Regions from separate parts of the Homo sapiens genome. Here all the other regions are linked to region 3. The links come from fine-mapping of genetic effects on gene expression. A gene starts in region 3. Each other region holds a variant in brackets. All regions are shown on one strand. Distances are between the middles of the regions.

The links. PIP is the estimated chance that this variant, and not a neighbour inherited with it, causes the effect.
Region 1: its variant is the best candidate, but not a certain one, in a credible set for the expression of TMC5-AS1 in whole blood (TOPMed, PIP 0.67).
Region 2: its variant is the best candidate, but not a certain one, in a credible set for the expression of TMC5-AS1 in whole blood (INTERVAL, PIP 0.51).

The regions. Positions count from the first base shown.
Region 1 is chr16:19,566,393-19,568,892 of GRCh38, forward strand. All of the region lies in intron 2 of VPS35L (VPS35 endosomal protein sorting factor like), which reads left to right. Among named protein-coding and RNA genes, the nearest start is that of VPS35L, 12 kb to the left of the region's middle. The variant A/G (reference allele first, on the strand shown) is at 1,417.
Region 2 is chr16:19,743,718-19,746,569 of GRCh38, forward strand. The region is part of intron 4 of IQCK (IQ motif containing K); the gene reads left to right. Among named protein-coding and RNA genes, the nearest start is that of IQCK-AS1, 21 kb to the right of the region's middle. The variant ATT/A (reference allele first, on the strand shown) is at 1,370.
Region 3 is chr16:19,486,191-19,489,042 of GRCh38, forward strand. TMC5-AS1 (TMC5 antisense RNA 1) reads right to left here and starts at 1,711. Exons shown (of 3, transcript XR_007065016.1): 1 at 1,634-1,711; 2 at 739-1,130. TMC5 (transmembrane channel like 5) reads left to right here. Exons shown (of 22, transcript NM_001261841.2): 16 at 755-830; 17 at 1,003-1,136. RefSeq lists an enhancer at 1,818-2,506.

The sequences.
Region 1 (2,500 bases), 80 kb after region 3:
GACTAAGAGAGGAGAATCACTTAAACCCAGGAGGCAGAGGTTGCAGTGAGCTAAGATCACGCCACTGCCCTCCATCCTGGGCAACAGAGAGAAACTCCATCTCAAAAAAATAAAAGGAAAATTCTGAGCCAAATTAAATTTAATGGAGCTTAATTGAGCAAAGAATAATTCATGAATTGGGCAGCCTCCTGAGCCAGAGTAGGTTCAGAGAGGCTCCAGCACAGTCACGTGGTAGAAGATTTATGGACACAAAAAGGAAAGTGACATTCAGAAAATAGAAGTGAGGTACAGAAACAGCCGGATTGGTTACAGTTCAGTATTTGCCTTATTTGAACCCAATTTGAACAGTTGGCCCCCCCCTTTTTTTTCTTTTTTTTGAGACAGAGTTTCACTCTTGCCCAGGCTGGAGTGCAATGGCACAATCTCAACTCAGTGCAACCTCTACCTCCCGGGTTCAAGTGATTCTCCTGCTTCAGCCTCCTGAGTAGCTGGGACTACAGGCGCCCGCCACCATGCCCAGCTAATTTTTTTGTCTTTTTAGTAGAGACATGGTTTCACCATGTTGGCCAGGCTGGTCTCAAACTCCTGACCTCAGGTGATCCGCCTGCCTCAGCCTCCCAAAGTGCTGGGATTACAGGTATGAGCCACTGTGCCCGGCCCAGTTGGCCCCCTTTAATTGGCCAAAACTTGGTGATTGGCACAAGAGTAGGTTACACTCTGTTTACATGTCCAATGAGGTTATAGTTCACTATGTGCAGAGAAACCTTTAGGCCAAACTTAAAATAGGTAAGGAGACAGCTTTAGGCTAAACTTGATTTAACACCCATACCATAACAGAATAGCTGAGAAGAGCTGCTGCAGCTCCAGGCCTATCCTGTTAGGTTAGCAACATCAGCAGCAGGAAAATGCTTTTCTCAAGCAGTTTTCATTGACCCAGTTTTGTTATGCGCCCTACCCTGAACCAGCATTGGTGACCTGCTGTATAGAATAAGTTGATAGATTGGGGTAGGTCTAATGCTCACCTTGGGAACTGAGAACAGAGTTCACCCCACCAGGCCTGTAGGAACTGAGTGTGGGGGAGAGATGTTTTCTCAAATAAAAATTGGGGTATTAAGTATTAAGCCTGTGAGGTGGAGGAATGGGTGCCAGGCAGACAAAAACAGCAAATGTACCCCAATGGGAGGTGCTTCTCTCCCTCCCCTAGACTGCAGTTCAACTCCATTCAGGCAGCCATCGCCGGCAGTTGGCATCTGACTCGACAGGTTTGAGGGCAAGGTCCTCAGTGAGACAGCCCTGGCCCAGTATGGTAGCTCATGCCTGTACTCCCAGCACTTTGGGATGCTAGATGAGAAGATCCCTTGGGCCCAGGAGTTCGAGAACAGCCTTGGCAACATAGTGATACCCCACTTCTACAAA[A/G]AGTAAAAAAACAATTAGCAAAGTGTGATGGTGTGCTTGTAGTCCCAGCTACTCAGGAGACGGAGGCAGGAAGATTGCTTGTGCCCAGGATGTCGAGGGTACAGTGAACCGTGATCACACCATTGCACTCCAGGCTTAGTGACAAAGCGAGACCCTGTCTCCAAAAAAAAAAAAAAAAGACATCTTCACTTCAGAAACTCCAACTTCGCTACACATTGGGAGTTCCCATGCCTCCCTCCCTCATGTTCAATAATTTGCTATAGTGGCTCACAGAACTAGGGAAACATTTACTTATACTTACCAGTTTATTATTTAGTATTTACTTGTACTTAACAGTTTATTATTAAGGATATTACAAAGAATACAGATGAACAGCCAGATGAAGAGCTACGTAGGGTGAGGCCCAGGGGAAGGGGCACACAGAGCTTTCATGTCCCCTCCAGGTACCTCGATGTGTTCTTGTTCACCTACCTGGAAGCTCTTCAAACCGCCCCCCCCTTTTTTTTTTTTGAGACAGGGTCTCACTGTATCGCCCAGCTGGAGTGCAATGGCACATTCTCAGCTCACTGCAACCTCTGCCTCCCAAAACCCCATTTTTCATGTTTTTTTTTTTTTGAGGCATCGTTGCATAGGCATGATTGATTATTCATTCGGTCTCCAGCCCTCTCACCTTCCCGAAGGATGGGGAATGGGGCTGAAAGCTCCAATCTTCTAATCATGGCTTGGTCTTTCTGGTGACCAGACCCCATCCTGAAGCTCTGCAGGAGCCCATCGGGAGTCACCTTATTAGGACAAAAGATGCTCCTATCACCCAGGAAATCTCCTAGGGTATTAGGAGCTCTGTGGGAGGAACTGGGGGCAGAGACCACATAAATTTAACAGCTTGGAGTGCAGTGGTGCGATCTCGGCTCACTGCAACCTCCACCTCCTGGGCTCCAGCCATCCTCCCACTTCAGCCTTCTGAGTAGCTGGGACCACAGGCATGTACCACCACACCTGGATTATTTTCATATCTTTTGTAGAGATAGGACTTCACCATGTTGCCCAGGCTGGTCTCAAACTCCTGGCTTCAAGTGATCCTTCT
Region 2 (2,852 bases), 260 kb after region 3:
CCACTGCTCCACTCTGATGGTCAGTCACACAGCTTGCTGAAAGCAGAGGTCAGATTCTGACATGAAAGATGGGTCTGGAGGCTGTGGAGAAAAGGAGTGAGAAGTTAGCAAGCCTTTTATTTAGGTTGTCCTGCCAGTACCATGAAACTCCAAGGAAGACCAGGGGGAACAGAGCAGACAGAGAAACAGCAAGAGCTGGCACCTAATTACTATGCCATAGAGCATTTGGCCAATTACACACACATCTATTGTGTGGTGTGTGGTGTGTGTGGGTGTGTGTATAGGTGTAGGTGTGTCTGCACACATGAATTCAGGCATTGTGTGGTACATGGTTCAGCAATTCCATGATTCCAGCCTCTGGAATCAGGCAGACCCTTTCAACCCAGGCCTGTTCCCCAAAAGCTATGCAAGCTTGATTATTTTGATTTTGAGTCACTCATCTTGTGATTCTTTTATATATATCATTTTAAATACTATGAATTTAATATAGTTTCTAAACAAACAGTTGTTCCTGCTTAGATTATTTTTTCTTCTTTTCTCTAAGCACACAAATAGTATATTTTTTCATTTTAAAAATTATTTTCATTTTTATTTTTAGAGATGGGGTCTCACTGTGTTGCCCAGGCTGGTCTCAAACTCCTGAGCTCAAGTGGTCCTCCTGCCTTGGTTTCCCAAAGTCCTGGGATTACAGGGATAAGCCAGTGCACCTGGCCCATCTTAGATATTTAACTCTATTTTAAATGCTCAATGTAAAATTCAGCATATTTAATAGGCAGGTATTTCCCTAATCCTTAATTTTTGGTGGAGATTACAATTGGGAGAATAAACCTTAAGCACATGATTTCCATGAATTATCTCAGCCTGAGAGTTAGATCAAGACCTCCACATTTCATGATACGAATTTAACAAGTGAAATAGATTTATTTAACCCTTTCTCAAAGGGTCATTTTCAATCATGTAAAAAAAGTAATTGAGATTTTTTAAGTGGCATCTGTATGGCATTAGAGTGACAATCTACAAATAAAGCCAATGGCCTTCTAGTTTTGCTGTGAAATTAGCTGGGTGCTAGCAGTATTTTATATTGTGTTAAACAAATATACTCTGTGAAAGGTAAATAACGGAAAATGATTGCTTTGTACAAATAGCTGGTGGAAGTACATCTGTGGCCAACAATAGATACTGTACAGACATTTCCTGTGTGTATAGCGATTTATGCAGCCATGTATACAACAAGCCAAAGGTAACAGAATGCAGATAATAGTATCTAAATTCGTTGGCCAATAAGTGAAGAATCACATGGAAGATGGGAAAGAGATGAAAGTTTTGACCCTTTGCTCTCCTATATTTAATATTCCAATATTTTGGGTAT[ATT/A]AAAAAATTTCAAAAGAAGCACGAGTTACCTTTGTAATCAGGAAAAATAAAAGTTAATGATAAGTAACATTTTCAAGTCCTCATATTTGACCCTGCTGCATCGTCTAGGTTATTTTCTTTCTCTCTTTCCTTTTCACTGACACACTCAGTGAATCACCTCACCTACATCTTTTTACCATTCATTCTTTCTTTAATGTGGCACTCTGGCATTTAAATGCTCACTATGTCTGGTACAACTCAAGTTTACTAATGACCCAGTACTGCCAAATTCTGTGACCTATTCCAGGGACAAAAAGGAGGCCAGTATGTTTGGGGCAGAGTGAGCAAAAGAGAGAGGAGGTGAGTTTGACAGGGTCAGCCCCGCAGCGGCCGTAACATCACATGGGCCAGTAAACAAAGTGGGTTTTATTTTAAAAGCAGTTGGAAGTAATTAGAGCCGTGACTCAACCCTACTGGGCCCAGTGCTCCCTTGTCATAGCATTGTATAGTGTGCTTCTTGCTATCCTGAAATGAAATGCTTAGATGATATAATATAACCTATTTATCAGTTACCTGATTGCTGTGTTGTACAGTAAACTACCTGAAAACTTCATGGCTTAAAATAACGATTTATTATTTTTCATGACTCTGGGCCGACTGGGCAGTTCTGGTGCTCTCTCCTGGGGTCACTCATGTGACTGCGTTCAGCTGGTAACTGGGCTGGGTTGGAAGGTCCAATTCTATCTCACTCATGTGTCTGGGGCCCTGGTGCTGCCTGCTAGCTGGGGCACTTCGGTTCTCCTTCATGTGGCCTCTCATCCTCCAGTGGGCCAGCCCAGCTCCTTTACAGCGTGGTGGTCTCCAGCAGCTTTCCAAGAGGGTAAAAGCAAAAGTGCAAAGCCAAGACCTGGAACATGACTTCCACCAAGTTCTCTACTAAAAATACTAAGAATTAGCTAGGCCTGGTGGCATGTGCCTGTAATCCCAGCTGCTCGGGAGGCTGAGGCATGAGAATCACTTGAACCCAGGAGGCAGGGTTGCAGTGAGCAGAGATCCAGCTTGGGGGACAGAGTGAGACTATGTCTCAAAAAAAAAAAAAAAAAAAAGAGTCTAGCTTCATTTCTTTTTTTTTTTCTTTTAATTTTTGTGGGTACGTCGTAGATATATATATTTATTGGGTGCATGAGATGTTTTGCTTCAGGCATGCAATGCGAAATATCATGGAGAATGGGGTTTCCATCCCCTAAGTAACTGTGTTACAAACAATCCAATTACATAGACTTTTTTACTTATTTTAAAATGTACACTTAAGTTTTTATTGACTGTAGTTACCCTGTTTTGCTATCAAATAGTAGGTCTTAGTTGTTGCCATTAACCATCCCCAACCTGACATTCATTCCTACTGTGTCTCATGGTGATAAGGCTGTGGGTGCTGAAAACATTTCCCATTGTGACTCTTAGAATTGCCGTCAGATCTAGTTTGTAAGCCATGCAAGAAAATC
Region 3 (2,852 bases):
CATCAATTTCATATCTTACAGTTCTGGAGGCCAGAAGGCCAAGATCAAGGTGCGGGTGGGGTTGGTTTCTTCTGAGGGTCATAAGGGAGGGATCTGTCTCAAGCCTCTCTCCCTGGTTTATAGACGGCCATCTTCTCCCCATGTCTTTACATGGTCTTCATTTCTGTGTGTGTCTATGTCCTAATCTCTTCTTTTTTTGTTGTTGAGATGGAGTCTTGCTCTGTCACCCAGGCTGGAGTGCAATGGCACAATCTCGGCTCACTGCAACCTCCGCCTCCCAGGTTCAAGCGATTCTCCTGCCTCAGCCTCTCAAGTAGCTAAGATTACAAGCATACGCCATCATGCCTGGCTAATTTTTGTATTTTTTGTAGAGATGGGGTTTCACCATGTTGCCCAGGCTGGTCTTGAACTCCTGACCTCAGGTGATTCACCCCCTCTTGGCCTCCCAAAGTTCTGGGATTACAGGCATAAGCCACCGTTCCTGGCCTCCTAATCTCTTCTTTTAGGGACACCGGTTGTACTGGATTAGGGCCTCCTACAGTGATCTCATTCTACCTTAATCACCTCTCAAAGGCCCTGTCTCCAAATACAGTCACATTCTGAGATATTCGGGGTTAAGGCCTCAATATATGGATTTTGGGGACACACAATCCAGGCCACAATATCTTCTTTCTCTTCCCCCCAACCATCCCAGATTCACCCCGACTCCTTGTGTCTCCGCCAGCCTCTGACACTCACCCTCTCTCCCTCACAGGATTGGCATCTTCTTCTGCCCCCTGCTGCCCTTTATCCAAATGATTATGCTTTTCATCATGTTCTACTCCAAAAATGTGAGTCAGTCCGACATTGCCATCAATCAGCTTTGTTCAGTCACCTGTGACCTGGTGGCGCTTAAAGCTGGGGAAGGGGGCTCTGCAAAGGTGTCAGGAAGCCAGGCCTGGCTGGGGTCCCTCTGCCGCTGCTCCGGCTGCAGATGGGAGGTGGCTGCCTCTCTCTCTTCAGATCAGCCTGATGATGAATTTCCAGCCTCCGAGCAAAGCCTGGCGGGCCTCACAGATGATGACTTTCTTCATCTTCTTGCTCTTTTTCCCATCCTTCACCGGGGTCTTGTGCACCCTGGCCATCACCATCTGGAGGTAGGAGAAGGTGGCCTTGGGGGAGGTTTTAGAGACTGGGTGGATGGGTGTGTGTTTTAAAACGTAGGTTTTATTATAATTCAGGTGTGGTGAGGCCGGGTGCAGTGGCTCACGCCTGTGATCCCGGCACTATGGGAGGCCAAGGCGGGTGGATCACTTGAGGCCAGGAGTTCAGGACCAGCCTGGCCAACATGGTGAAACCCTGTCTCTACTAAAAATACAAAAATTAGCCAAGTGTGGTGGTGCATGCCTGTAATCCCAGCTGCTCTTGAGGCTGAGGCAGGAGAATCACTTGAACCCGGGAGGTGGAGGTTGCAGTGAGCCAAGATTGCACCATTGCGCTCCAGCCTGGGTGACAGAGTGAGACTCTGTCTCAATAAATAAATAAATAAATAAATAAATAAATAAATAAATAAATAAATAAATAAATAATGTAGGTATGGTGAAGCCCAACAGGTCAGGAATGACCATCACTAAAAAGATAGTTTATTACTCACAGTTCCTGAGAAGAGGGGGCACTCTATGCCACAAGGGACCACACAGGGAAGCATCAGGGTTGTTCAGGAGGCAGAGGGAGTGAGGGGAAACGGGCTAGAGGCTTTATTGTGGTTTTCTATGGTAAGGAATGGGCAAGGCAGGGGAAGCAGGTTTAGGGTTGGCTGGTTTGTCAGTAGGCTGTGGGATATGGATCCGCCCTGAGTTGTCTGGCACCTGGCCCTGGGGTGATTAGGGCAGGGGAGTGGTGGCCCAGAGTGTGAGAGCCTGATAAAGGGGGCGGTTGCGGGTGTGGGATCTGGATTGGTTGGTTTGCATTTGAAAGGTGTGCTTTGTAAGCTAGCCCAGGGAAGGGCAGCTAGCCCTGGGAGCTGGAGTCAGTAAGACCCCAGATGTCAAAACATCAGAATAAAAAGACATGCTTAATACAGTGCCTAACTCAAGTTCCCTGGCTAACCAACAGACACTAAAAGCCAGGGAGGGAATGCATCCTAGTTTGATCACCACCCATCCGATGCCCACGGTCAGGAGTAGCTTTCTCACTTCTGCCAAGAACTGAAGCTTCCCAGAATGGGGAGATGCCCCCCCACCCCGTTCCTCCACATCCAGAACAGAACTTCATCTAAATTAACAGAAAGGCAGGACTCATCTGGCTCCTCCCACCTCTCCAACCCCACTTCCCTTTGGCTCCACTGTTCCCCGCCCCACCACCCTCACCCCATTCCTGGAAGCCAGCAAGCCCCTCCCAACAAGGGCAGAGTCCTCTGAGTGAAGTCCTTTTCCCACTCCCTTTGCTTGGCTGCCTCCTCTCCACCCTCTGATTCTCAGCTCCAAGGCCCTCTCCAAGATCTGATCTTCACAGCCCTCCTTGTCTGCTCTCAGTTCCCCACTGCTTCTCTCTCTCAGACCTGAGTTTCTTTCCTTCATTCTATCATTCATAATCAGGAATGCCTCTGTGTGAGTCTTTAATTGTTACTCAACGATTGTCCGTTTTTCCCACCAGAATGTAATCCCAATAGGGCAGGAACTTGCTTAATATGAAGTCCCCAGAGCCTGACTAGAACAGTGCTTAACAGAATAAGCCATGGTTGAATGAACAATTGAATGAATTAATGAACAAGGGAGATGATTTTTAGGACACATGTGAAACTGGGGCTCTCAGTTCCTTGCTCCACAACACCCTTGCTCCTCTTGGCATATCCACTCTCTTCTCTCTCTTCC